7 linked regions of the Homo sapiens genome follow. The protein of the gene in region 7 interacts with the protein of the main gene of each other region in a biochemical or structural test. Each region holds a gene or a part of one and is shown on either strand. Other genes may lie near its edges. The genes, in order: PNMA8B, HERC3, HMGA1, ADGRG5, RTF1, NADK and SRPK2.

What was found.
Region 1: of the proteins of SRPK2 (region 7) and PNMA8B, one has a biochemical effect on the other in vitro, tested with the Homo sapiens proteins (one large-scale study listed by BioGRID).
Region 2: of the proteins of SRPK2 (region 7) and HERC3, one has a biochemical effect on the other in vitro, tested with the Homo sapiens proteins (one large-scale study listed by BioGRID).
Region 3: of the proteins of SRPK2 (region 7) and HMGA1, one has a biochemical effect on the other in vitro, tested with the Homo sapiens proteins (one large-scale study listed by BioGRID).
Region 4: of the proteins of SRPK2 (region 7) and ADGRG5, one has a biochemical effect on the other in vitro, tested with the Homo sapiens proteins (one large-scale study listed by BioGRID and IntAct).
Region 5: of the proteins of SRPK2 (region 7) and RTF1, one has a biochemical effect on the other in vitro, tested with the Homo sapiens proteins (one large-scale study listed by BioGRID and IntAct).
Region 6: of the proteins of SRPK2 (region 7) and NADK, one has a biochemical effect on the other in vitro, tested with the Homo sapiens proteins (one large-scale study listed by BioGRID).

What each region holds. Positions count from the first base shown.
Region 1 is NC_000019.10:46,493,068-46,497,513, forward strand, and holds the start of PNMA8B (paraneoplastic antigen-like protein 8B), read right to left. Parts: upstream 2,801-4,446; 5' UTR 2,399-2,800; coding exon 491-2,398; 3' UTR 1-490.
Region 2 is NC_000004.12:88,665,321-88,669,298, forward strand, and holds part of HERC3 (probable E3 ubiquitin-protein ligase HERC3), read left to right. Parts: intron 1-2,056; coding exon 2,057-2,168; intron 2,169-2,571; coding exon 2,572-2,761; intron 2,762-3,978. UniProt on the Homo sapiens protein: E3 ubiquitin-protein ligase which accepts ubiquitin from an E2 ubiquitin-conjugating enzyme in the form of a thioester and then directly transfers the ubiquitin to targeted substrates.
Region 3 is NC_000006.12:34,235,667-34,239,672, forward strand, and holds the start of HMGA1 (high mobility group protein HMG-I/HMG-Y), read left to right. Parts: upstream 1-1,206; 5' UTR 1,207-1,215; coding exon of another isoform or gene 1,216-1,297; exon of another isoform or gene 1,298-1,537; coding exon of another isoform or gene 1,538-1,651; intron 1,652-1,748; coding exon of another isoform or gene 1,749-2,714; intron 2,715-3,124; exon of another isoform or gene 3,125-3,291; intron 3,292-4,006. Other genes in the region: translation initiation factor IF-2-like, read left to right, coding at 580-590, 909-1,064, 1,216-1,297, 1,538-1,651, 1,749-2,714. UniProt on the Homo sapiens protein: HMG-I/Y bind preferentially to the minor groove of A+T rich regions in double-stranded DNA. It is suggested that these proteins could function in nucleosome phasing and in the 3'-end processing of mRNA transcripts.
Region 4 is NC_000016.10:57,562,922-57,566,899, forward strand, and holds part of ADGRG5 (adhesion G-protein coupled receptor G5 isoform 1 precursor), read left to right. Parts: intron 1-169; coding exon 170-326; intron 327-926; coding exon 927-1,058; intron 1,059-2,112; coding exon 2,113-2,229; intron 2,230-2,367; exon of another isoform or gene 2,368-3,677; coding exon 3,678-3,830; exon of another isoform or gene 3,831-3,978. UniProt on the Homo sapiens protein: Orphan adhesion G-protein coupled receptor (aGPCR). Ligand binding causes a conformation change that triggers signaling via guanine nucleotide-binding proteins (G proteins) and modulates the activity of downstream effectors, such as adenylate cyclase.
Region 5 is NC_000015.10:41,423,243-41,427,220, forward strand, and holds part of RTF1 (RNA polymerase-associated protein RTF1 homolog), read left to right. Parts: intron 1-3,978. UniProt on the Homo sapiens protein: Component of the PAF1 complex (PAF1C) which has multiple functions during transcription by RNA polymerase II and is implicated in regulation of development and maintenance of embryonic stem cell pluripotency.
Region 6 is NC_000001.11:1,768,158-1,772,135, forward strand, and holds part of NADK (NAD kinase), read right to left. Parts: intron 1-3,978.
Region 7 is NC_000007.14:105,144,267-105,148,244, reverse strand, and holds part of SRPK2 (SRSF protein kinase 2), read left to right. Parts: intron 1-1,586; coding exon 1,587-1,752; intron 1,753-2,936; coding exon 2,937-2,962; intron 2,963-3,978. UniProt on the Homo sapiens protein: Serine/arginine-rich protein-specific kinase which specifically phosphorylates its substrates at serine residues located in regions rich in arginine/serine dipeptides, known as RS domains and is involved in the phosphorylation of SR splicing factors and the regulation of splicing.

The sequences.
Region 1 (4,446 bases), on a different chromosome or scaffold from region 7:
TTGCGCCCTGACACGCGCTGCGCGGCTGGTGACTGAGCCTCCACCACAGACCCAGGGCCCAGTCAGACTGGGGTAGGGGCGACAGCGGCCTACAGCACCTGCCAGGCGCAGGCCCCGAGAGCGCCACGAAGAGCCCTGCTCGCCTCTGCAGGTGCCCGGCGTCCACACACACACCCCCTCCGGGGGCAACCCGGGCCCCCAATCCTGGTCCACTTGGCGCGTCCCCATCTCGGCCCTGCGCTGCTGCCTCGGGCGCCCACTTCTCTTTCCTCCTCCCATCCGGGCTTCCTCCGTCGGGATCGCTGGCGCCCCCGGCCTGCGAGGGCCCGAGAGGGGAACGTGACGCTGGCAAAACGCGGCCCGGGCGCGCTGTGAAGCGAGGAGATTGCGTCTGCGGAGGACAGGAAGAGGGGAGGGGAGGGCGGGGGCCACAGGCGGGCGGGTGCCCTGCGGGGCCTGCTCGCAGCCTGGGCGGCTTCTTGGGGGGCCACTAGCGGCATTTAGGGGGCAGCCTCCGGCCCCGACGGGCCTTCTTCCCGCGCGCGGCCTTGGATCCAGTGGGCGCCTGGCCCTTGGCCTCGCCTGCCCTGGCATGGGCCCCGGCGCCCGCGCTCCCCTTCTTCTTCCTGCTTCCTGCGGCGTCGTCCTGGGCCGAGCCCCGGCTCCCGGCTTTCTTCTCGGGAGTGACGCCCCGGCCTCGGCCTCGGCCGCCCGCGCGGGTTTTGCGGGCCCCGGAAGCGGTGGGAGGCGCGCCGGCCGGAGTCAGGCCCCTGGGGGCCGTGCGCGCCCTCTTGGCCCGGGGCTTCCTGGATGCCCTGTCCTCCGGCTCCGACGCCTCGCTCTCGGTGTCCTCCGACTCCTCCTCGGACTGTTCGTCCGAAGCCTCCTCCGACCCCTCGTTGGACCCCATGTTCTCCCGGGCGGCCAGGAGCGCCAATACCTCCCCCAGTTTGCCTTTGGGGTATTTGTACTTCCCGCCTTCCCAGGCGTTTTCTTTTTCCTCCTTCATCACCTCCGCCATGTCCTGGGCAGCCAGGAGCGCCACCAGCTCCAGAAGACCCCCTTCGTCCTCACGGTGCTCGCTCCAGCCCCCGAAGAGGCCACGCCCAGCCTTCTTCGCCTGGGGAGGGAGATCCGGCTGCGCCAAGGTGGAAATGCACTCCCGGAGGTCCCCGTCATCCCCGGCCTTGCGCAGGACCACGGCGTCCACCTCGCGGCCCGCCTCTTCCACCTTCACGCGGGTCCCGTTAGTGTCCTTGGACATGACGGACAAGACCTGTCGGAGGGGGTCTCGCTTGTCTTTCTCGTCGCTCCAGCCCAGCGACTCGATAACAGAAGCGATTTTCAACATCTCCTCCCGGGCCCAGGGGTCCGACGGGTCGGTATAGGCCACAATGGCCACGAACTCAGGATTATCCAACTCCTCTGTTTCTTGGTCCCCACTTTCCTGCGAGTCGCTCTCCGAAGTGTCGCTGTCCACCGGCTCCTCGTCCGGGGTGTCTCTCACAGCCAGCAGGGCCACTAAGTCGGGGACACCATTTTTGTCTTCTTTGGTGTTCAAGCGGATGGATTCGGCCCCAGCTGGCTCCTTCTCTGCCTCTTCTTTCTTCGATTTGTCGGTGACGGTGACCAGAGCCAAGAACTCGCGGGGACCGTCTTCTTCCCCCTCGGAGTTGCAGGGCGCCCACTGCCTAACCAGCTCCCTGGCAGCGGCCTGCAGCGTGGCGTACAGCGCGCTCTGGTCCTCTTCTCCGCTCAGGTCGCCCTGGTCGATCTCCTCGATCACGATGCCCAGGCTCTCGTCGGAAGAGTCCTCGGCCTCACTCCTCGCGGGAGCAGACGGCCGTCCTCCTCGGCTTCTCTTCTTGCCCTTCTGGGTCAACCTGTTGCGTCTGGTTCTGTTTCTGCGACCCCGACGGCCCCTCCTTGGGTTCCTGGCTGCCCCAAGAAGCGAGCCAGCCTGCCCTGTTACCTCCCCAGAATCCTGGGCCTGCGTCTCCGAAGCGGGAGGGGTGGGTGCCTCCCCGGGGGTCCCAGCCTCCGCGGCCTGCGTGGGCCCGTCATCCAGCAGCAGGCGTCTCATCTGCCTCAGGACCCTCGTGTCCTGCGCACGGTCCTTCCACAGAACCCTCCAGACCCCATCCTTGCCTGGGATCTCCCTGGGAATGGCAGCGTGATTGACGTCCTCCACAAACTCCACCAGGGCGGCCTGGGCCTTCTCGTTCATCAAAGCCTTCATGTGTCGCAACCTGAACGTGCCCAGGGGCAGGAGGGTCGGCTGCAGGACGGCTTCGACGTCTGCCTGCTCCAGGCCCTCCGGGATGCCGGTGACCAGCAGGGCCCTGTGCGCGTCCACGTCCAGGCTCCGGCACCAGTCCTGCAAAAGGCTCATGGCCATGGTGCAGCCCCCTTGGCGCTGATCTTGGGGCAGCAGGGAGCCCGAGATAGGGGTGGGCTGCAGCGCACGGTGTCAATGCAACCCTAGAAAGCCACTTGCAGGGCTTAGAGTCCCGGTTCCGGTGAATGTGGCAAGGCTGGAGTGGGGCTCGGGGCTCGGGGGCTCTAGCTGCCTGCTGGCCGGCTGGACGCAGTGACCTTCCCCCGGGACCCCTCTCCAGAGCTGTCTGAGGATCCGCGGGGGGCTTACGTGTCTGCTTTCCAGGACAGCTCCCTCCCTCTCTCCCTGACACAGGCCTGAGTGACTCGGCACCGCAGCCAGGTGCAGGGGGGCGGCGCCGAGTGCACCTGGAGAGGCGTGGGAGGTAGCAGCCGCAGCTTGCCTGGCGCTCGCGCCGCGTCTGAGCGCGCACCCTGGGCCTGAATCTCAGCAGTTCCGCTGCGACGCGGCTGCTCGCGCGTGCGCCTGCGCAGAGGGAGCCGCACACCCTCCCCTGTCCCCCGCCCAACCGTCTCCATGGCAACGGTGCAGCCTTGAGCTGGGGTCTGCGTCGCTGTGGCCTGAGACGCTTTTCTTAAAGGTCCCGATGACAAGGACTTGGGGCCTGGAAGCACCACTTTCATTAACCAGCAAAAAACAAGGCCGAAACCACAGAGGGCCAGAAATCACTCAAGGATACCCGACCTCATTCAGGGGATAGAGGCCTCCTTCCAGAGGGTACCGGCATCACTGGGGGTTACAATTCCCCCTTCCAGGGGCCAGGTGGAATTCAGGATTATATAGGCCTAAATCAAAGGGCACTGGCCTTGCAGCGTAGGACCAGGACTTACTCGGGATACTGGCCTCATTCACAGTATATGGGTCTCAGTATCAAATAGGGGGGCCCAGGCACCACCTGTGAGCAAGACACCATTCAGGGTATATGGGCCTCACTTGCAGGGTACAGGCCCCACTCGATGGGACCGGCCCTCACTCCCATACACGTTCCTGTATTCTGAACTATGCATGCACAATAAATCCTGTGGTTTTGCACACGCTTTGAGCATATGTATGATTGTGAGACCAGGCATGAATTTTGCAAGAAAGCATTTCCCTTGACTGGGACAGCAGACTGGGGCGTGTGAACGTCAGTCATAGCTACTGTAAACATGCATTTGCTTCTCTGTCCCTTGTTGGCCATGAGGCTGTCCCCTACTCTATATGAATCTGGCTCTGTAGACCAGCTGGTAGGTTTATATCTCAACCATCATCCCTACCTCAAAGGGTTTTGTTTTTTTGTTGTTGTTTGTTTTGGAGATGGAGTCTTGCTCTGTCACTCAGGCTGGAGTGCAATGGCACAATCTTGGTTCACTGCAACTTCCGCCTCCCATGTTCAAGCGGTTCTCCTGCCTCAGCCTCCTGAGTAGCAAGGATGACAGGCCTCCCAAGTAGCTGGGATTATAGGCATACACCATCACGTCTGGCAAGTTTTTGTATTTTTTGTAGAGATGGGTTTTTACCATGTTACCCAGGCTGGTCTCAAACTCCTAACCTCAAGTGATCTGCCCGCCTCAGCCTCTGAAAGTGCTGGGATTACAGGATTACATGGTGAGCCACCATGCCTGGCCTCAAAGGGTTCTCATGAGGATTAAAGGGAATAATCCAGGAAAGCATTTAGAAGAGCAGCTGGCCCACAGCTGGTGCTCCATGAAAGATGGCTAAGAGAAGTATTTGTTGAGAACTTACCATTATAAAAGCATCTGTTTTGTTGGTTTGTTTTTGAGATGGAGTCTTGCTCTGTCGCCCAGGCTGGAGTGCAATGGAGCAATCTCGGCTCACTGCAACCTCCACCACCCGGGTTAAAGCCATTCTCCTGCCTCAGCCTCCCGAGTAACTGGGACTACAGGCATGCACCACCATGCCTGACTAGTTTTTTGTTTGTTTGTTTGTTTGAGAGAGAGTCTCGCACTGTCACTCAGGCTGGAGGGCAGTGGCGTGATCTTGGTTCACTGCAACCTCCGCCTCCCGGCTTCAAACCATTCTCCAGCCTCAGCCTCCCAAGTAGCTGA
Region 2 (3,978 bases), on a different chromosome or scaffold from region 7:
AAGCTGATGGTGTAACTCTCAGTCTGAGGCTGAAGGCCTGAGAAATGGGTGGGGGCTGCTGGTGTAAGTATTGGAGTGCAAAGACCACAGAACCTGGAGTTCTGATGTACAAGGGCAGGAGAAGAAGGATGTCCTAGTTCCAGAAGAGAGAAATAATTTGTCTTTGCTCTGCCTTTTTGTTCTGGGCTTTCAGCTGACTGGGCGGTGCCTACCCACACTGAATGAGGATGGATTTTCTTTACTTAGTCACTAATTCAAATGCCAATCTCTTACAGAAAACTGACCCAGACATACCCAGAAATAATACTTTACCAGCTATCTGGGTATTCCTTAATCTAGTCATGTTGACTCCTAAATTCAACCATCACCACCCCCTCCCCACAAATGAGTCCCTAACTGGGTTGCAGGAGGTCACTTCAGAAACTCTCTTTGGTTACATTTAGAGATTATAAAGTCATTTACTTTTATAATTAAGGCAGCTGGGATGAGCTCACACAATTCATTTCATATTTAGTAATTAGTTTTTTCCTCTAGGGAAAGATATTCTGGATTATGCTGATGTTGGCCTTCCAGAACAGGGGTTCTCAACCAGGGTGATTTTGCTCCCCAAAGGACATTTGGCAATTTCTGGTAACATTTTTGGTTGGTACAATGGGGAGGGACTTGCTATTGGCATCCAGTGGGTAGAACCCAGCGATGCTGCTAAACATCCTTCATTCCCACCTGCCCAGCAAAGAATCCTCTGGTCCCAAAAGTCAATAGTACCAAGGTTGAGAAACCCCGTTCTAGATGGATAGCTTTCATGACATTTGGGAAGGGCTCTTGGCCAGACTTGTTAGGTTGTTCATCCTTAGTATCACAGATTTCGTATAGAGTTGTGGGGAAAGCCTTTTATTTTTTTTCAAACTGACATCTGTGTATTTCAGAAAGTCTACTCCTGTAGCGTACATAGGATGCATCTCAGGAAACCAATCAAAATGAAGACCAGATTTACAAAGCAATAAATACGTATAGATAAAACATTTTGTTTTTGTTTTCTCAACAGCATAGCAAAAAGCATATGGAAAATTACATATGGGAAACCAGAATTCATTTCTATATTTTGGGCAGATTTATTTTAAAAACAATAACAACAACAACGAAAGACCCAAAAAACAAAGTACAAGCAATTTATCTTCATTTGAGCATAGGGTTCCGATACATATAATTATGATTTTTAAAAAATGTTAGAAACTCTTATGTTTTCAAAAATTATAACATTGCTGTCAGAGTGTATTAAAATCATCTGAATGTGTCCATTACTCAAAAACAGAAGCCTGCTTTGCAAATAGATAGCTCTTTTGTAAATTAACAAATGTGGTATGTTCAAGAGCAGGATATATGAGATATTCTCTAAGTCTCAAAAATGCTAAGATTTTATTTAAGGTTAAAAAAATGATTTAGTTGCTAGAAAGTTAAAAATAGTGGCAATGAAATTAGTCCTTGGGTGAATGTAATTGTATCCTTTGTGTTAACGATGAGAGACATTAACTTTGCATTTACTATAGATCATTTTTATTTTAAATACTTTGGTAAGAAAGGCTTTCAACAAGGAAGTTCTACTGTCATTTGTTGATGAGTGGACCAGTTTGCACAGGGGACGTTATTTGTACCAAGCCACAGCATCTACATCTAGTTCAATGAGCCACAAAAACAGAAAAAAACCAAAAAACACAAGATGAAATCAGGGAAATAATTATTTGTTTATAAACTTCAAGATAGCCTTAACTTGATATGACAGTCCTTGTACTTTGACTTGAAGGAAAACAGATTTAAAAATTTGAAAATTCTTGTAAAAGGAATTCCAGTGTGGTTTATTCTTTGTGAAAGAATAATATTCTGTATTTTGGGTTTATTATTTTGAGATTTATGCAAAGTGTAGTATTTTTGTGGATCTTATCTGCCAGATCAAATTTAAATCTGATTACTAAGAACACAGTATTTTACTTGTTTATAATTCCTATCAGAGTGTTTGCTTTTTCTTTTATTATATACCTTTTTGATTTTGTTTGTTTAGAATTGATGAACATTTTAAAACGAGTCCCAAAATCCCTGGGATTGACCTGAACTCAACTAGGGTGTTATTTGAGAAGTTAATGAACTCTCAGCACTCCATGATTCTAGAACAGGTATGTTTCTATATTTGTAAAGTGCATTCTTAAAAATGCATTTTTGTATCGATGAATTCAACTTCAAGAGAAAAAGAGTAAGATGAAAAAGTGAAAGTCTCCAAATCTTAATTTTGTAAAGTATTTACTCTGGGAATTAGACCTACCTTTTGCTTTCTTTTGGCTTAAACCTTTCCAAGGCAATGCCCCTCTAGAATATACAGTTTGCACTGGCAGGGATCTTTGGCTTTTCTTTTCATGGATGTGTACTGAGGGCCTAGACCAGTGTCAGGCTCATAGTAGGTTCTCAGTGCATAGTGAATGAATGAGAGTTGAGAGTCTATCAAATAGCTTATGAACTTAGAGAAAGTTAACTAGATCTCAAGTATGTTTGAATTTCTCATTACTCTTTTCCCTCATACAGATTTTGAACAGTTTTGAAAGTTGTCTGATTCCCCAGTTGTCAAGCTCACCACCAGATGTTGAAGCCATGAGAATCTATTTAATACTACCTGAGTTTCCCCTACTCCAGGATTCCAAGTATTATATAACATTGACTATTCCCTTGGCTATGGCCATTCTTCGGCTGGATACAAACCCCAGCAAAGTACTAGGTGAATTTGCTAACCTCGATATCAGTGGTTTTATGGTCATTTGTTTTGTTGGTGTGACTCCTGGCTCTCAGTGGATTGAGATCCAAGAATCTATTTGTTGCCATTTAATATCCTTAACACTTAAAACCTTTTTTTCTTTGCTGTTAATTTTTAGCTAACCCTATTTTCAAGTTGAAAATAAAACCATTATTTAGATTATTTGAAATGACTCATGCCAGAATAATCTTGATTTTATAGTATTCACAAACCTAATTTATTTAACTTGAAACTATTTTTTTCTACCACATTTGCTCAGTACCTCAGTATTACTGTACGTTGGTCTTTCTCCTATGTCTAATTTAGGGGGTGGGAGTGAAGTGAACAGTTTCGGTGATACAGAGGTCTCCAAAACAGGAGAGGAAGAAAATGACCTAGTGTGGACTTACCAAATGTTTGTTTTGTTTTTCTTTTTTAGGACCGTTGAGTCCACACTGATTTTTGCAGGCTCCGGACACTTTGCTGAGATAAAAACCTTCCATTCCTCAGTGATTTGGAGAGTGTCTTTCATGGGAGTAGCACCTGAAATGTTTTTATTACTCAAGTGCAGGAAGTCTATCACCTGGCTTTTTACTTTTTTCCCCCCTGGTAAATTTTGTTAGGTGTCATTGCAGCTCAGTAACTTCTGTGTTCCAGATGGACTGGGATGTTACTTGAGTGTGGTCTCGCCGTGAATAAAGAGATTGTGTTCCTGAAGGTGGAATACTGGCTTTTCTATATTGCCTCCACCTTTGTAGAAGAGATAAAAACAGAAATAATAATGAAAGCACTAGTAAATGTTAGTACTTAATTTTTTTTAAGATCAAAAGCCTTTTGGGGGCACATTTTCTCAGGTGTTCTAGTTGATGTGAAACAGAGAGGTGGCAATATCAGAAGAAATCTTACCTGACTTTCAAGTTTTAGAGTTTTTTCATTTTTATTTTTCCAGGCTGGAAAATACAAAGAGAACATAATTGTTCAATTTTACACTTTATTTTTAACTTCTAATTATTGATATTTAAAAGAATACCCCAAAGTAGAGAGTATGCTACAGGTAGTCACCACACAAATTCAGCAGTTGTCAGTATTTTGCCCATTTTATTTCATCTGTCCCTCGCCCTCACCACCTTTTTATTTTTTGTTGGAGTATTTTAAAGGAAATCTCAGACATACTATTTCATTCTTTAAGTATTTCAGTATGG
Region 3 (4,006 bases), on a different chromosome or scaffold from region 7:
GGGCCCAGGGCTTTCCTGCGTCCCCTCCACCGCCGGCTCGCCCCCTGAGGAGGGGGCTGGGCCAGGGCCTCGGCTGACCGGGGAGGAAGAAGGGGAGCAGAGAAAAACATGAGTCACAGCCGTGTGTCACTGGAGCGCATTTCAATTCCCTGCATCACAGGAGGTGTGGAAGGCCGCCTCGGGGACCGGGCGCGGGAGGTGCGCCCGAGAAGGCCCCGGGCCGGCCTGCAGGGCGCGCCGCTCCGCCTGCGCCCTTTCCTCCCCCACCGCCCTCCCCGCCATCTTCCCCTTTGGCTTCCTTCTCGCTCGGTGCAACAAGTCTTTGTTAAGCCGGGCGCCGGGCGGGCCAGGCGTGGCGGAGATGGCCTGCGTGCTCGGCCCCTGCCCTCAAAGCGCTTCCAGGCGACCTCTGGCCCACCTTTTATTTTTATTTACAGTCCCAACGGAAGGGCCCAGGTCCCCAAGTGGGCCTGCGTATCTCCAGAACACCATCTAAGTCACCTCAAGGTATGAAGCCTCCCTTGGGTGTACCTGCCAACGAGCCAATCGTTGGTTTCGCTGGAAGGCTCCACCTTGATCATGGCTCGCTGGTGGCCATTAATAAAACACTTTGGATTTCACAAGTTTCACGTTTGAATTTCACAAGACTTGTATCTCACCAATCAGCCACACGCGGGTTGACACTGAAAGGCACATGCTGACACCTGTCCGCCCAGGGGAAATCTACCATCTCTCTATTTTAGTTAGGGGGCGGCGTGTAGGCCGCGGAATTCTCTAACGAGCGCGTTTCTCTTCACCCCCTGGGCCCGCGTGGACCCCCGTCCACCCCCACACGCCCTGGGGGGGGGGCCGGGCCCACACGCCCTGGAAGCCCCTAGAGGTGACTCTCCCTGGGACCCCTGTACCAGGGAGGAAGGATACCGCCACCCGTCACCACCCCCCGCCAGAAGCTCCTTCGTGACTCCTCTGCGCGTGCCTTCCCACACCTCCTCCGTCCGGGACTGCGAGGAGTGGGCGGTCGACTCGAGTTCGCAGCCCAGGCCTCCCACACGCCCCTCCCTGCCGTCAGCACCCACCCGCGCGGCAGCGGCGGCGGCGGCTGGCGGGCGGCCGCCCTTTTAAATCCCCGGGCTCATTTGCATGGCCCCGCCCCCTGAGTGACACGGCTGGCGCGGGCGGGCCCGTCCCCCCTGCCCCTGGGTCGCTCTTTTTAAGCTCCCCTGAGCCGGTGCTGCGCTCCTCTAATTGGGACTCCGAGCCGGGGCTATTTCTGGCGCTGGCGCGGCTCCAAGAAGGCGTGAGTTCGCGGCCGCTCCGGTGGCTTCTTTTTTTTATATCTATAATTTAATTAAATTATTTATTTATTGAGGCCGCGCACGGGCCGTGCCCAGCTTCCTGCCCCTCGCCATCCTTCGGGGGAGGGGGAATATTTTTGTCCCCCCGCCTGGCTGTGACACATAAATACCCCGCGGGGGCCTGGGCGGCGAGCACGCGGCGGCGGCGGTCTCTGAGCGCCTCTGCTCTCTCCCGGTTTCAGATCCGCATTTGCTACCAGCGGCGGCCGCGGCGGAGCCAGGCCGGTCCTCAGCGCCCAGCACCGCCGCTCCCGGCAACCCGGAGCGCGCACCGCAGGCCGGCGGCCGAGCTCGCGGTGAGTCGTCCCCGGGGCCCGCGGCGGCGGCGGCGGAGGGGGGCGCCCGCGCCCCCGCCCGCACGTCGCCCCTCCTGCGAGCCGCCCGGGGCTGCAGCGCGCGCCGCCGGCTTTATTCCCAGGCCGGGGCGGCGCGAGCCGGCGGCGGGGGAGGGCCGCGCGGCGCGGGGGCGGGCGGCGGGGCCCGGCGGCGCGGGGAGGACGCCCGCACCCCTTCCCCCGCGCCGCGGGCGCCCTGCGGGGGGCGGGGACCCGGGAAAGGCGCGCGGTGGGGGAGGGGGCGCGCAGCTGCGGCGAGCGCGAGTTGTGCACCCGGCGGAGCCCGGAGGAGCCCGGCGCACCTCGCGCGGCGGCCGCTCCCGCTGGAGCCGGAGCCCGAGCCCGAGCCCGGGCCCGGGTGAGGGGCGGGGAGAGACACGGGCTGCGGCGCGGCAGGAGAGTGGGGGGTCGGGCGCCCCCCGCAGCTCAGGGAAGTTCTGGAAGTGAGGGAGATGGGGAGGAACCCCCAAATTCGGCCCTACGCCCTCTCGGCCTTTCTCTCGCGCCCCCTCCGCAGATGAGGCCGGAGCGCGGGCCTGGGTTTGGGGCTTCACCCCGACCCCACCTCTGGCCTGGCCCGCGCCTCTTCAGCCCCAGGGGCCGGGCCTGCCCTCCGCCCCCACAAACTGGTTTCGCTGCTTTGCTGGGCTCTGTTGGAACTAGTCCCTTTGACTCCCCGTTTCTATTTTATTTTCTTCTGGGGCTTTATTTTGCGGGGAGGGGACGGAGGGAGGGGGCTTTCTTCCTCTCCCCCGCGCCCGCGCGCGCCAGGTTTCCTGCCCCAAGGCGGGCTTGGGTGCCCCCTCTGGCAGGAAGTGGGGCCGGGTGCACCCGCGTGGCGGTGCATGCGGTCGGGGTGCGCTGCTTTCCCGCGCCTGCAGGAGCGGCCTGCGCCCCTCCCCCCGCGCGCCCTGGCCCCGGGTCCCGCCGGCCGGCCTGCAACGGCCGGGCGCAGACACTTGCAGAGTCACCCTCGGGCCGGGTCTGGAGCCTGATGCCTCGGGGGTTTAGCCCTAGCCGCTAGGCGGGTAGGCAAAGTGTCGGGTTGAAAGGGTCTCCGGGAACCTACTTCTTCCTGCTCGCCAACTTGCTGTGTGACCTTAGGCAACTCAAGGCTTCTCTGGGCTACTTTTTTACGGGGGACGGGGAAGAAAACAAGGGAACCCCCAAGATAATTTCCTAGGGCCTTTCCTGCAGAGTCCTTAAGTATTTGAGGAGCACAGTTTGCATGCACAGTGTATGGAGGAGACAGGCTTGAGGCCCAAGCGGGCTTATTACAAAGTGAGGGATTGGGGTTAGGCCCTAAATGTAGTTCCTCCAAGACAGGCCTCTGATGTTCAGAAACAGGTGGAAAAGACGAACGTTTCTTGGCCTCACTGGAAAGGGCCTCGGGCCTTCATTTAGTTCGTGGGGGGTTGGCTGAGGGGATTAAAGGGTCCCCAGCAGCAAGAGGTGGGGGGAGGCACCAGATGGTATGAGAGCTTCCAGGGAGACCCGCCAAGATCTCCAGGCAGGCCGGGCCAGGCTCTCTGGGATTCCGGACTGGCTTCGCCCAACTGGAACCCCCTCGATGAGGGGGCCCCAGGCAGACCTTATATGAGGTCAGCACTCGTTTAGTTGATTAATTTTGATGTTTAGTTTGAAGGGGGACCTGTGGTGTAATATAAGATTCTAATCACTGCCTGTAATTGCAGAGCAGGCCAAGCCACTAATGACGGAGCAGGATAAATCACCAACCACCTTGTTTAAAAGGGTCTCCAAGTCTGAAACATTATAAGATAGAATAATTACCAAAGTCCTGCTGTCTGGAGGGTCTCTTGATGCTTGAAAATGGAGGTCCTGGGCCCTCTAGAAATCACAAGTTTGCAAAAATGTTTTTTTCCTCTCATTGGGGTAAAAACTCTTTTTCTTCTTTTTTTTTTTTCTTTTAAATTAGACATGGGAGTCCCACCGTATTGTCCAGGCTGGTCTCGAACTCCTGACCTCAAGCAGTCCTCCTGCTTTGGCATCCCAAAGTGCTGGGATTACAGGCATGAGTCACCTCACCTGGCCCATAAATCATTTTCAAATGGTCTAGTTCTTATTTTGGTTAGAGTGAAGATTTCTTTCTATTATTTTAAGTTTTTCTAAACTATTACCTAGTTTGATCCTTGAAGCAGTCAGGAGGTAGTTCAGGCAGGTACCTTATAATTACCTTGATCTTACAGATTGAGAGGGGTTCAGAAGTGGAGCCGCTTGTCCCACCCCTTACCATGGCAGGCAGGGATTGGTTACTGGAAAAATGTGTAGCCTAGGCCTCCGGCGTCTCATCCATCT
Region 4 (3,978 bases), on a different chromosome or scaffold from region 7:
GGGTAGGGAGGTAACAGTGTGCCAAGGACACTGTGTGTGCAGTGGTCTGGAGGTGCGTGTGACAGAGGTGTGGGTGGGGAGGCCCTGCCCTCCCAGGCTGTCTACAGCCCCCTCTCACCCTTACCCCACTCCGGGCTCTGGCCTCCCTGGCCATCTCTCTGGGCTGCAGTCAACTCCACCAGCTGGAGCAGATGCTACTGAACACCAGCTTCCCAGGCTACAACCTGACCTTGCAGACACCCACCATCCAGTCTCTGGCCTTCAAGCTGAGCTGTGACTTCTCTGGCCTCTCGCTGACCAGTGCCACTCTGAAGCGGGTGCCCCAGGTCAGAGGCTGCGGGTTGGGGGGTGTGGCCAGCTGCCCCGCCCTAGAAGTCCTCCAGGCATTTAAGGTCTGGACTTTCTTTAGGCTCCACTGTCTTCCTCCCCACACCCCACAGTCCAGGCTCTGCCCTAACTGGCAGTGAGTTGCCTCCTCTGTAAAATGGGGCTCATACTCGCTGTGTGAACTGTGGAAAGGGAGGTGCTTTATTGCCCCTGCAGGGCAGAATCTTCTTCCTGCTTTGGCTGGAGGCTGCCCGCTGCGGGAGGCGCTGTGGGAGAGGCCAGAAACCCTGGCTCCTTTTAGGACCCTGGGGTGATCAGCTGGATCCCTGGCAGGGGCTGGGGCTGGTGCTGGGGCTGGGTGCTGAGGTAGCTCCATCTTCAGGGGTTCAGTGGGTCAGGTAAACATCCAAAACTCAGGAACAGCATGGAGGGAAGGCCTGGGATCTTGGGAAGTTTGGGAGGAGATGCAGCCTGGGGGGAGAAGGTTCTGTGGGTGGAAACCCCAAGGAAGGTTTCACGGGGAGTGGGAGGCAGTGAAGGTGTTGGGGTCAGGTCTCCAGGTCCTGGTTGCCAAACAGCCTGTTTGCGACCCTCTGCAGGCAGGAGGTCAGCATGCCCGGGGTCAGCACGCCATGCAGTTCCCCGCCGAGCTGACCCGGGACGCCTGCAAGACCCGCCCCAGGGAGCTGCGGCTCATCTGTATCTACTTCTCCAACACCCACTTTTTCAAGGTCAGTGTGATGGCGGGCCAAGGAGGGTGGGTGCCGGCCCCTTCTTGGGATCCACTGCAGGTGCCCATGTCACTGCCTGGCCTCTGGGTGACCAGCACTGAGTGAGACCAACCAGCCATCTGTGCAATCCAAGCCAGCAATTGTCCCTCTCTGGGCCTCAGTTTCCCTGCCAACTTTAGCAGAATGGTAGGAAGGTATAATTACAATCTGCAAATAAGACCTAAGAAACCTACGATGTGCCTGTCGGTAGGCGGGAGACAGACAAGAAGGCACTTATTATTCCCTGCCCTCAGATAACTCTCTGTCTTGATGCCTAGACTAAGACCTTACAGATTTTTTTTTTTTTTTTTGGCAGAGTCTCGCTCTGTTGCCCAGGCTGGAGTGCAGTGGCATGATCTCGGCTCACTGCAACCTCTGCCTCCTGGGTTCAAGCAATTCCCCTGCCTCAGCCTCCTGGGATTACAGGCGTGTGCCATCATGCCCAGCTAATTTTCGTATTTTTAGTAGAGACCGGGTTTAACCACGTTGGCCAGGCTGATCTTGAACTCCTGGCCTCAAGTGATCCGCCTGCCTTGGCCTCCCAAAATGCTAGGATTATAGGCGTGAGCCACTGAGCCTGGCCTGATCTTAGAGATTTAATGTCAGCAGAAGGTTGATTATAGCCATAGAGATCCAGAGTGATGGATGAGTCAGGGTGGGGTTGGGGCTCTTCCCAGTGGGCAGTCCAGGGGAGTTTCTGGGGAAGGTGCCTTTCAACCTTGGCTTTGAAAGTGAGTGAGGATAGTGGTGAGGTGGAGGGCGTGAGGCTGGAATGCATTAAACGAATGGGAGGTGGAGCAGGGGGTGGTGAGAGGACAGCTTTCCACAGGGCAGAAACAGCACATGCAAAGGCTGGGAGGCTGGGAAGGCTGGGAGGCTGGGAGGCTGAGAAAGCTTTCACGCTGCACACGTGAAAGTCTTGCTGCTTGTTCTCATCCAGGGAAGCGGAGCTCAGACCTTACCCAGGGCCTCCCCATTTCCCCTCCACTCAGCCCTTCTCCTGCTGCCCTTCCAGGATGAAAACAACTCATCTCTGCTGAATAACTACGTCCTGGGGGCCCAGCTGAGTCATGGGCACGTGAACAACCTCAGGGATCCTGTGAACATCAGCTTCTGGCACAACCAAAGCCTGGTACTGCTGGGGGCGCCCCCGTTTCCACTGCACCCCTGCCCCTCTGTGACTCTCCTGTTGAACACTGGTTTGACTAGACCCAAACCTGTGGAACCATCTTGGAAATCCATCACACTTTGAAAATTCCTGCTCAAGAAATAAGAGAGAGAGAAGTTTTTACTCATGCATTTGTCAGAATTCTTTCAGTTGCAAGTAAGAAAAGACCACTTCAAGCCAGCTTGAGCACAGAGGGAACTGATTGGCACACATCCATGAAATGTCTAGAGGTGATCCACCAGCTTCAGACATAGCTGGATCCAGGGATGGATCTGATGCCCTTGTGGCTCAGTCTCTCTCCGTCTCAGCAATGGTCTCCTGTCTTGGCTGTCCATTCTGTGGCATGATGGATGCTGGAGAGCCAGACTTCCTTTCCCTCTTCCCATCAGGCTCTTCCCCCGACTCCCCACCCACAACCTGCCCCAGTGCAGATCAGGGTCTCAGGATCTTAAAGGTTCAGCTGGGTCACACATGTCCATCCCTGCACCTGTCACTGTGCCCAGGGGGATGGAATGTGTGGATTGGCCAGGCCTGGGTCACACGGCCCAGGGACTGGGGTGAAGGAGTGAGCTCCTAGGGTAAGTGCAGATGCTGATCCTGGAACAGAGACAGGGCTGCTTGTTGGGGGTGGGGGCAGAGTGGGGTGGTTCACAAGCCTCAGTGCCTCCATTTCTGGTTCCTGGCATTCCTGAAAAGCCCGGAGCCTCTGCTTTCTGGCTTCATCTTCCCTTCAGCTTCACCAGGACTGCCCTGCACTCTAAATTTCACCATCATCCTTTCCTTTCAGCTCTGGGCTTTTGCCACTATGGTTCCCTCCACCTGGAATGCCCTTGCCCTACTCGTGTTGAAATCCAACACGTCCTCTAAGGGTTCAGGGCCCCCACCTCCCCTTCTCCCTTTGGGTCAGCTCTGCCTACCCTCCATGGTCTTCCGTGACTACCTGTGTCATTTCCTCCACTTCTCCACCCACGTGGCTTGGCATTAGGGTTGTCTGTGGATGAGTCTCCCCCAACCAGGCGTGGGTCTGAGCACATTGCTGTTCCCCATGGGGAGGAAGGGAAGGGATCAGCTGGTTATGGAGCGCCTACTGTATAAAAGGCCAGAGCTGGACACTCAAGATTCCGTGTTGCCCTTTGTTTTTCCACCATTGTTGTAACATGGGTACGAATGATCCTATTCTGTAGATGACTAAACTGAGGCTCAGAGCAACTTGGTGTCTTGCCTGGGTCACTCTGAGAGCCCACAGTGGAGGTGGGACAGGAATCTGAGACTGTCTGAAGCCAAAGGCCAGCCAGTGCCTGGTAAAATGTTGGCAAATGTGCAGTTGAGTCACCGTTGGCCCCCAGGACTCCCAGACACTGATCTGCAGCCTTTCCTCTGCACCCTATGACTGACCCAGCATCTCCACCCAGGAAGGCTACACCCTGACCTGTGTCTTCTGGAAGGAGGGAGCCAGGAAACAGCCCTGGGGGGGCTGGAGCCCTGAGGGCTGTCGTACAGAGCAGCCCTCCCACTCTCAGGTGCTCTGCCGCTGCAACCACCTCACCTACTTTGCTGTTCTCATGGTATGTATGCATCCTGAGTGGGGCTCAGAGCTACAGAGGGCCCTGTGTCTGTGGCAGAGGAGCAAGGCAAAAGCTGGTGCAAGGGACAGAAAGTCCAACTGAAATGGGCTTAAGCAAAAAACAAAAAAAACTTTATGGACTCATGTTT
Region 5 (3,978 bases), on a different chromosome or scaffold from region 7:
GGAAGAGTTTGTGAGAAGTGTCAGTGTTAATTTGTGAAAACTTTAATTTGTGTCATGTTGCATCTAGCTTGATGTAATTCGCTTGTTAATTTCACTCTTTTCAAAGAGTGAGTCCCATGGGAGCTCCCTCCCCACCCAGCCCCCACCCAAGATGGAGTCTTGCTCTGTCACCCAGGCTGGAGAGCAATGGCACGCTGGGCTCACTGTAGCCTCCGCCTCTAGGTTCAAGTGATTCTCCTGCCTTAGCCTCCCGAGTAGCTGGGATGACAGGCACGCGCCACCACTCCCGGCTAATTTTACATTTTTATTAGAGATGGGGTTTCTCCATGTTGGTCAGTCTGGTCTCAAACTCCCGACCTCAGATGATCCACCCACCTCGGCCTCCCAAAGTGCTGGGATTACAGGGGTGAGCCACCACGCCCAGCCCTGGGAGCTTTAACAGTGAGGCTTTTAGGAAAAATACAAAACTGATCTTCAGACACAGGTCATATTGGTGTATTTATTTTTATTTATTTATTTATTTATTTTGAGATGGAGTCTCACTTTGTTGCCCAGGCTGGAGTGCAGTGGGACGATCTCAGCTCACTGCCACCTCCGCTTCCCGGGTTCAAGCAATTATCCTGCCTCAGCCTCCCAAGTAGCTGGGATTACAGGTATGCACCACCATGCCCGACTAATTTTTGTATTTTTAGTAGAGATGGGGTTTCACCATGTTGGCCAGGCTGGTCTCAAACTCCTGACCTCAAGTGATCCGCCCTCCTTGGCTTCCCCAGGGTGCTGGGATTTCAGGCATGAGCCACCGCATCCGGCCTGATTGTTCATCGTTCAACAGATGTATTAGACAGCGTTAGACACTAGAGCTATTGGGTGAACAAAATGGAAGCAGTTTCCACCTTCAAGGAGTGTAAAGTGGAATGAGAGAGAGATGAGGTGGGGAGATTGCTCAGAGAGAGTAATTTCCTTACAATTGCACTACAGGCCATGAAGCAAGGACAAGAATACTGTGGAAATATTAACCAGGGACCCTATTCTAGCCTGATGAGAGTGACATTGAAACAGACCTGGAATATGTGTTAAGGAGAAGCAGATTAGAAGACTGAAGAGTAAAGGGAAGAGTGTTGAATGTTCATGGTTGAGGCACCAGCATATATAAAAGAAATGAGACAGGAAGGACCTCGAACCCTTATGAAACTGAAAGAAGCACAGAGTGAGTAACATAAACTAGTTGCATAGTTGGAGAGAGAATAGTACAAATGAAACTGTAGAGGTAGATTCTGTTTTGACCCTTTGAGGATGGAGAAGTCAGTTTACGGACTACACTCAGCAGTAAAAATAAAATTGAATTGATAGAAAACATCAAATGTGTCATACATAGTAAATATAAGTGATGAAATTTGTGTGTCTCATATGTACATGTAGATGTATACTGGGTTGTGAGGTATAATTTATCTTCCTGTGGGCTGCGTTAAAAAGAGAAAAGTTTTTTGGCCAGGCGCAGTGGCTCACGCCTTTAATCCCAGCACTTTGGGAGGCCGAGGTGGGTGGATCATATGAGGCCAGGAGTTCGACCAGGCGGGCCAACATGGCGAAACCCCATCTCTAGTAAAAATACAAAAATTAGCCAAGTGCGGTGGCACACACCTGTAGTCCCAGCCACTGGTGAGGCTGAGGCATGAGAATCCCTTGAACCTAGGAGGCGGAGGTTGCAGTGAGCCGAGATCACCACTGTATTAGCCTGGGTGACAGAGAGACTCCGTCTAAAAAAAACAAAAGAAAAAAAGAAAAAAATTTAAAGCCACTGGAGGGCGTCAGCCTCCCCGGTGGCTGGGACTGCAAGTGTGTGCCACCACACTTGGCTAATTTTTGTTTTTTATTTTTGAGACGGAGTCTCGCTCTTTTGCCCAGGCCGGACTGCAGTGGCGCTGTCTCTGCCACTGCAAGCTTCGCCTCCCGGGTTCATACCATTCTCCTGCCTCAGCCTCCCGAGTAGCTGGGACTATAGGCGCCTGCCACTGTGTCCGGCTAATTTTTTTTTTGTATTTTTAGTAGGCACGGGTTTCACCATGTTAGCCAGGATGGTCTTGATCTCCTGACCTCATGATCTGCCCGCCTCGGCCTCCCAAAGTGTGCTGGGATTACAGGTGTGAGCCACCGCGCCTGGCCAATTTTTGTATTTTTAGTAGAGACTTTGGAGTTTATTCTGAGAGTAATAGGAAGCCATTGAAGGATTTTAAGTTGGAGAAGATTTTCAGATTTGCCTTACCCAGACTATTGTGGAGAGTAATATGGAGGGGGACACTAATGAAGTGGCAGAGAGAGGAGTCCAGATGAGAGATGATGGAGAACATAAGTTCCATTAGAATGGAAGCGCCAGGAGGGTAACCGTATGTGTTCACTATGCTGTCCCTGGCATCTAGAGCAGTGCCTATATGCAGTTGGCACCCAGTCAGTATTTATTAAATGAAGGACTGACTTGGATTGATATGGTTGTTATAGAGATGACAGATAGTGGAATTGGTTGGACATGATGTTCAGTATGTAGAACTAAAAGGCCTTGAAGACTGAGGACTGATTAGATGTTAGGATGAGAAGAGGAGTATTTAGGATTGATGCCAGGCACTGGCATGAGATGGGGAGTGCTGGAGGAGCAGGTTTAGAGGTGAAGATCCTGCATTCAGTCTGGGATATGTGGAGTTCGAAGTGACTATGAGATGTCTAAGTGGAGACATCAAGTAGGTAGTTGAAAATAACACTTGAGGGCCAGGCACAATGGCTCATGCCTGTAATCCCAGCACTTTGGGAGGCTGAGGTGGGAGGATTGCTTGAGCTCAGGAGTTTGAGATCAGCCTAGGCAACATGATGATGAAACCTGATCTCTACAAAAAAAAAAAATTTTTTTTGGAGGTGGAGTCTCGCTCTGTTGCCTAGGCTGGAGTGCAGTGACACCATCTTGGCTCACTGCAACCTCCGCCCTGGGTTCAAGCGATTCTCGTGCCTCAGCCTCCTGAGTAGCTGGGATTACAGGCACATGCCACCATGCCCAGCTAATTTTTTTGATTGTTTGTTTTTATTTTTTTTTTTGGGATAGAGTCTCGCTCTGTCGCCCAGGGTGGAGTGCAGTGGCACGATCTCTGCTCACTGCAACCTCCCCCTCCTGGATTCAAGCGATTCTTCTGCCTCAGCCTCCCGAGTAGCTGGGACTACAGGCGTGCGCCACCATGCCTGACTAATTTTTTGTATTTTTAGTAGAGACAGGGTTTCACCATATTGGCCAGGCTGATCTCGAACTCCAGACGTCATGATCTGCCCACCTCGGCTTCCCGAACTGCTAGGATTACAAGCGTGAGCCACTGTGCCTGGCCATTTTTTTGTATTTTTAGTAGAGATGGGGTTTTTCCATGTTGGCCAGGCTGGTCTCGAACTCCTGACCTCAGGTGATCCACCCCGCCCCCCCCCCCCCCCGCCCCCCCCCCCCGCCGGCCTCCTGAAGTGTTGGGATTACAGGCGTGAGTCTACTGTGCCCAGCCGCTACATATATATGTGTGTGTGTGTGTGTGTGTGTGTGTGTGTGTGTGTGTGTGTGTAATTTTTGTTTGTTTGTTTGTTTGTTTGTTTTTTAGGCAGAGTCTCACTCTGTTGCCCAGGCTGGAGCGCAATGGTGTGATCTCGGCTCACTGCAACCTCCACCTCCCAGGTTCAAGCAATTCTCCTGCCTCAGCCTGCCAAGCAGCTGGGATTACAGGGGCCCACCACCACGCCCAGCTAATTTTTGTATTTTTAGTAGAGATAGGGTTTCACCATGTTGGCCAGGCTGGTCTTGAACTCCTGACCTCGTGATCCACCCACCTTGGCCTCCCAAAGTGCTGGGACTACAGGCATGAGCCACCATGCCTGGTCTACAAATTTTTTTTTTTTTTTTTTTTTTTTGAGACAGAGTCTTGCTCTGTTGCCCAGGCCGGAGTGCAGTGGTGCGATCTC
Region 6 (3,978 bases), on a different chromosome or scaffold from region 7:
CAAAACTCCGTCTCAAAAAAAAAAAAAAAAGAAAAAATGAGGTCATAAGTGTGGGGTCTGATCAGACAGAATGAGCATCCTTGTAAGAAGAGACACCAGGCTAGGCACGGTGGCTCACTCATGTAATCCCAGGGCTTTGGGAGGCTGAGGTAAGAGGATCACTTGAGGCCAGGAGTTCAGGAACAGCCTGGGCAACATAGCAGGATTCTGTCTCTACAAAACAAAAACAAAAACAAAACCAAAACAAAAACAGTTGGACACAGTGGTGCATGCCTGCAGTCCCAGGTACTTGGAGGCTCCGGCAAGAGGATCAATGAGCCCAGGAGTTTGAGGTTTTGCAGTGAACTGTGATTGTGCTGTTGCACTCCAGCCTAGGCAATAGAGACCCTGTCTCAAAAACAAAACAGAACACCAGAGAGCTCTCTCCTCACCTCTGTTCCCACCCTCACTGGGCACAAAAGTAAAGCCATGTGGGGACACAGAGAAGATGGCCATTACAGTGAGAAAGAGAGTCTTTACGATGAACCAAATTAGCTGGGACCCTGACCTTGGACTCTTGGCCTCCAGAGCTCTGAGAACAAACATTTTTGTTGTTTACCCGCCCCCTGCCCCATGCCTGTGGCACTTTGTTACAGCAGCCTAAATAAAACAACTAAAATATGTGAGATGATGGCAAGGTGGGCAGAAGGAAAGTTCAGGAACTATGGACACAAGACTGTGGGCCCTATGCTACGGTCAAAGCCAACGGGTTCTCTGAATACCCAAAAGCTGGTTCTCTCTCTGGCTGCATTCTACAATCACCTTAGGAGCTTCAAACAACACCAATTCCTACGTGCCCTCCAGACTGAATGATCAGAACCTGAAGGTACAGCCCAGGCACCGGCACTTTAAAAGAGCTCCCCAGAAGATTCTAATGTTTAGCGAGAATTGACAGTACTGTCCCAGTGGGTCAATATCTCCCTAGCTTAAGACATACCAGGCGGGATGTGGTGGCTCACGCCTGTAATCCCAGTGCTTTGGGAGACCAAGGTGGGCGGATCACTTCAGGCCAGGAGTTCAAGACCAGCCTGGCCAACATGATGAAACCCTGTCTCGACTAAAAGTACAGGCTGGGTGCGGTGGTTCACGCCAGTAATCCCAGCACTTTGGAAGGCCGAAGCGGGCAGATCACCTGAGGTCAGATGTTTGTGACCAGCCTGGCCAACATGGCGAAACCCCGTCTCTACTAAAAATACAAAAAACAATTAGCCGGGCGTGGTGGTGGGCGCCTACACTCCCAGCTACTCAGGAGGCTGAGGCAGGAGAATGGCGTGAACCCAGGAGGCGGTGCTTGCAGCGAGCCGATATCGCGCCATGGCACTCCAGCTTGGGCAACAGAGCGAGACTCCGTCTCAAAAAAAAAACAAAAAACAAAAAACAAACTAGCCGCGTGTGGTGGCGCGTGCCTGTAATTCCAGCTGCTGGAGAGGGTGAGGCATGAGAATTCCTTGAACCTGGGAGGCAGAGGCTGCAGTGAGCTGAGATCGTGCCACTGCACTCTAACCTGGGCGACAGAGCAAGACTCCATCTCAAATGAAAAGAAAAAAAAAAAAAGAAAAAAGACATACCAGTGTTTTATTCAAATACATGAAAAATTCGGCCAGACACGGTGGCTCACACCTGTAATCCCAGCATTTTGGGAAGCCGAGGTGGGTGGATCATTTGAGGTCAGGAGTTTGAGACCAGCCTGACCAACACAGTGAAACCCTGTCTCTACTAAAAATACAAAAAAAGGGCTGGGAGCAGTGGCTCTTGCCTGTAATCCCAGCACTCAAAACAAAAACAAAAACAAAAACAAAAACAAAAACAAAAACAAAAAAATTAGCCTGGAGTGGTGGTGGGCACCTGTAACTCCAGCTATGCAGGAGGCTGAGGAAGGAGAACAGGAGAATTGCTGGAACCTATGAGGTGGAGGGTGCAGTGAGCCGAGATCGCACCACTCACTCCAGCCTGGGTGACAGAGTGAGACTCTGCCTCAATAAAAAGAAAAAAGAAAAAAAGAAAAAAAAACCATGAAAAATTCAATGAAAACCAGAACCTACAAAAACATGTCTGGTATAACTACTCCTATTGAGGACTATACTAGAGGCCACAGCCAGTGCAATAACATAAGAAAAAAATAAAAGGTACAGTGACAGAAAAGGTTTGGCATGAAATGTAGGTCTGTTAAACAAAATAAGAAAAGGAACAAGTGAAGTTGTACTTGCAGATGACATGACATTTCTATGTAGAAAAACAAATAAGTGAGTTTATTAGCAAGGTTTCAGAAGGCAAATTCAATACACAAAAATCGCCTGTATTTCTATATACTAGCAATAGACAACAGGAAATTGAGACCATCCTGGCTAACATGGTGAAACTCTGTCTCTACTAAAAATACAAAAAATTAGCCGGGCATGGTGGCGGGTGCCTGTAGTCCCAGCTACTCAAGAGGCTGAGGCAGGAGAATGGTGTGAACCCAGGAGGCAGAGCTTGCAGTGAGCGGAGATCGCACCACTGCACCCCAGCCTGGGTGACAGAGAGAGACTCTGTCTCAAAATAATAATAATAATAACAACAATATAATTTACAGCTGGGTGTGGTGGCTCACGCCTGTAATCCCAACACTGGGAGGCCGAGGTGGGTGGGGATCACCTGAGGTCAGGAGTTTGTGACTAGCCTGACCAACATGGTGAAACCCTGTCTCTACTAAATATAAAAAATTAGGCAGGCATGGTAGCACATGCCTGTAATCCCAGCTATTTGGGAGGCTGAGGCAGGAGAATCACTTGAACCTGAGAGGTGGAGGTTGCAGTAAGCCGAGATTGCACTGCAGCCTTGGTAACAAGAGTGAGATTTCATCTTATAAAAAAAAAAAAAATATATATATATATATATATACACACACACACACATATATTATTAAAAATATATATCTTATTAAAATATATATACATATATATGATCTATAATAGCATTAAAAATATAAAATATGTGGGGATATATTTGGCAAAAGACATGTCAGAACTGCACACTGAAAACTACAAAATATTGCTGACAGAGATGAAAGGAAACCTAAATAAATGGAGAGACATACCATGTTCATGGATTGGAGGACTCAATATTGAGATCTTAGTTCTCATCAAATTGATCTGCAAATGTTACCCAAACACAACCATCAAAAGCCAAGCAGGCTTCTCTAAAGGAAAGGACAAGCTGATAAAATTCACATGAAAATGTAAAGTATCTAGACCAGCTGAAAAAACTTTGAACAAGAACAAACGCGAAGGGCTAAGTTCATGACTTGTTGAAAAACTACGGGAACCAGACAGCGTGGCAGCATCAAGACGGACATACACATCAAGGAAACAGGACGGCCAGCCCAAAGGTAGACGCCACAGACCCTCACACACATGCAGTCCATGAATTTTTGACAGGTGCTGAGGTGATTCAACATGAGGAGGATCATCTTTTCACCTAATAGTTCTGAACAACTGGACAGCCACGTCTAAAAGAACGAAGCCCAACCACTTCCTCATACTACATACAAATATTAACTCAGAATGGATTATAGACCTAAATGTGAGGACTAAAACTATGAAACTTTTTAGAAGAAAGCACTGGAAATTTTTTTTTTTTTGTCTTTTTGTGAGACAGGATCTCCCACTGTTGCCCAGGCTGGAGTACAGTGGTGTGATCTCAGCTCACTGCAGCCTCAACCTTCCAGGCTCAAGCAATCCTCCCACTTCAGCCTCCCAAGTAGCTGGGATTACAGGCATGCACCACCACACCTGGAAATTTTTTTTTTTTTTTGGTGGAGATGGGGTCTCCCTATGTTGCACAGGCTGGTTTCAAACTCCTGGTCTCAAGTGATCCTCCCACCTTGGCCTTCCAAAGTGTTGGGATTACAGGCGTGAGCCACCTCACCCAGCTGGAAAAAGTCTTAGTGGTGTTTAAAAT
Region 7 (3,978 bases):
AGCCATCAGGGAAATGTAGATCAAAACTACAACAAGATACTTCATATCCACTTGGGTGGATAAAGTAAAAAACGATAGTAAGTGTTGTTCAGGGCGAAGAATTGGAACCCTCATACATTGGTGATAGGAATGTAAAATGGTGCAGCCACTGTGGAAGACACTTTGGCAGTTCATCAAAAAGCTAAATATAGAGGCACCATATGACCTAAGTACGGTAACTCCTAGGTATATACCTCCCCTCAAAAAAAGTATGTTCACACAAAAATGTATACACGAGTGTGAATAGCAGTATTATTTTTATAGCCCCTAAAGTGAAAATAACCCAAATGTTCATGAGGTGAAGGGATAAACACAATGTTGTATCTCCATACAGTGGAATACTGTTTGCCAATAAGAATAAGCGAAGTACTAATACATGCTGCACAAGAGTCAAACTTGAAAACATTATGCCAGTTACAAAAAAATACTTTATATGATTCCATTTATAGGAAATGTCCAGAATCAGCAAGTAGATTAGTGGTTGCTAAGGGTTAGAAGGGGTAGGAGAGAGATGGGAAGTGAATGCTGATGAATATGTTGTTTCTTTTTGGAGCAATGAAAATGTTGTCATTTAAATAGTGGTGGTAGTTGCCGTGTGTGGTGGCTCACGCCTGTAATCCCAGTACTTTGGGAGGTCGAGACAGGTGGATCACAAGGTCAGGAGTTCGAGACCACTGGCCAATATGGTAAAACCCCGTCTCTACTAAAAATACAAAAAAAATTAGCCAGGCGTGGTGGCATACGCCTGTAATCCCAGCTGCTTGGGAGGCTGAGGCAGGAGAATTGCTTGAACCTGGGAGGCGGAGGTTGCAGTGAGCCAAGATTGTGCCACTGCACTCCAGCCTGGGTGACAGAGCGAGACTCTGTCTCAAAAAATAAATACATAAAAAATTTAAAAAATAAATAGTAATGATAGTCGCACATCTAAAATCCATTGAATTGTATACCTAAAGGGGTCAATTGTATGATACATGAATTACTAGCCTACTGTTGATCAGAATCCTTAATGATCACATGACCAATTAACATGTATTTTGTATGTGTGTTATATAGCATATTTTTACAACAAAGTAAGCTAGAGAAAAGAATGTTAAGACAATCATAAAGAAGAGAAAATATACTTACTATTCATTAAGTGGATAGATCATATGAAGTAGATGATCATAAAGGTCTTCATCCTCATTATCTTCGCGTTGAGTAGGCTGAGGGGTTGGTCTTGCTGTCTCAGGAGTGGCAGAGGTGGAAGACAATCTGTGTATAAGGGAACCCATGCAGTTCAAACCTGTGTTGTTCAAGGTTCAACTGTATGTAGATGCATTTGCTTCCACGAGCATAAATAATCTCTGAAATTATACACACTGGTTGCTTATGGAAAGGAGAGCTGGATTCCAATGTGGGTAGGCATGGGAGGGAGATTTTTACTAAATATCCTTTTGTGTTTATCAAACTTTGTACCCTGGCATTGTATTACATGTTTTTCAAATAAATAAAAGTTATATAATGAGATATTAATAGCTTATCTTCTCTCTTGATTTTACTATATCCAGGTCCTTCAAGGGTTAGATTACTTACACAGTAAGTGCAAGATCATTCATACTGACATAAAGCCGGAAAATATCTTGATGTGTGTGGATGATGCATATGTGAGAAGAATGGCAGCTGAGGCCACTGAGTGGCAGAAAGCAGGTGCTCCTCCTCCTTCAGGGTCTGCAGGTGAGGGAGCTGAGCCAGCTTCATTTCAGTGTGGGGGCATTGGGAGCTTGCAAAGTTGCAGTTGTTGAAGGTATCTGAATCAAACGTTACACATAAGGAAGATTTTGGAAAAGTTTAATTGCTGGAAATAACTGCACCCTTGAAATGGAAAATGCCCCAGCTACATTATATTTTAATATTGGAAGTATTTACTTTTGTCCCCCTTTAAAAGGCCATTTAAATTTGTAGTTGCTGCTTCATCTATATTTGAACAGTTTTTTCTGTTGCCAGCTTCTCTGCAGAGGAGAACATAGTAACAGCTTTCCTGTAGCTGACCTTTAGTCATCAGAATATTTTTCTGGCTTCAATTTTGTGTACATAAATTCTTGTTGTCCATTTAGCATAGCTATGTCAACCTGAGTTGTATCAACAGATTTGGAGTTAGTTAGAAAAGGCCTGATGGTGGGGGAAGAAGATCAAGTGACCTGAGTATTGGGATATCTTTATTTCTGGGGCGGGGTCGGGGAGGTGGTGCAGTGAAGTGTGGACTGTGCTTCTCACTCTTCGACACCATGATCTGTGCCTTTGTGTGTTGTCAGGCAAGCATGGATACTAAAGGGCTGAGGCTCCTGGGACTGCCTGGGGCTCTCTTCACATCTCCTTTACTGCCATCAGGGTGTTGTTTAGATCATGGACCCAGCCTGTTAAGCTTTTGACCCTGGTGTAGGGGTTTAATCATGTGATTCCTAGACTATTTGCTGCATACCAACTGCAGTATTTGATTTAAATTATAGAAAGCTTGCAAAATAGATTCCAAATATCGATGTACATCTACATTGTTCATTTCATTATATTTTAAACAAATTTGGTTTAATGACTGTGATATGTATTCTTTTCCATTTTCTTAAGTGATCTGTTGGTGCTTGAGCTTGACTGTGTTTGAGATGTATTAGTATTTCATTTTAGATAAATAAGAGAAATGGCTCAGTATGAGTAACTTCTGCTGTGACTTCAGGAGTCACTCATTTGTTTCAGTGGCATAAACTTACTCTAGATCCTTGTGATTAAGAAGCTCTGATTAATAGTTTTTGAAGTTGGATAGCCATTAAAAGACAATAATTATTTCACTTTGCAATTCGAATGACCTACATGAAGGCATGTGTCTGTTTTCTGCTAAATACAGATTTTGTTTGATTTTATTTTAGTGAGTACGGCTCCACAGCAGAAACCTGTAAGTACTTACGCATATTACTTTATATGCACCATGTTAAAAGAGACCGTTTATTATTGAGTTGTTCAAATTATAAAAAAGTTGTGTATTTAAAGGGTAGACACATTTATAAAAGCTGTGTATCCTCAAATAGGTAAGACTTAATGTCTTGTTAATTTTTTTTTTTTTTTTTTTTGAAAACTGAGTTTCACTCTGTTGCTCAGGCTGGAGTGCAAGTGGTGCGATCTCGGCTCACTGCAACCTCCCCCTCCCTGGTTCAAACGATTCTTGTGCCTCAGCCTCCCGAGTAGCTGGGATTACAGGCACCTGCCACCGCACCCAACTAATTTTTGTATTTTTAGTAGAGAGGGGTTTCACCATGTTGGCCAGACTGGTCTCGAACTCTTAACCTCAAGTTATCTGCCTGCCTCGGCCTCCCAAATTTCTGGGATTACAGGTTTGAACCACCACGCCCAGCCTGTCTTGTTAAGTTTTAATGATCTGTGCAGAGTTGGGATAGTTAGAGCCTTTCAAAAATTGTCTTCTTTATGCATTTTCTGGACTATGGTGGCCAAGTTTAGTGAAATGTGAGGTGATGGAGTTGAAGTATTTTTATTTCAAAACCACTTTACATTATTTCTGATTGGCTGCTAAGTTACCTGTTTTTCTGAAGCTGTTGTTCTAATTTTTTCCATGCGGATGTTAAATAAGAAAGAGACTGATCTATTTTGTGGTCCTGTCAAAACACTATGTCCTTATTAGATACTGGGTGTGGTGACTCACGCCTGTAATCCCTGCACTTTGGGAGGCTGAGGCCACTAGATCACTTGAAGTCAGGAATTCAAGACCAGCCTGGCCAACATGGTGAAATCCTGTCTCTACCAAAAATGCAAAAACTAGCTGAGTGTGCTGGTGGACGTCTGTAATCCCGGCTACTCAGGAGGCTAAGGCAGTAGAATCACTTGAGCCCAGGAGGTAACGGTTGCAGTGAGCTGAGATCACGCCACTGCACTCCAGCCTGGGCGACAGAGTGAGAC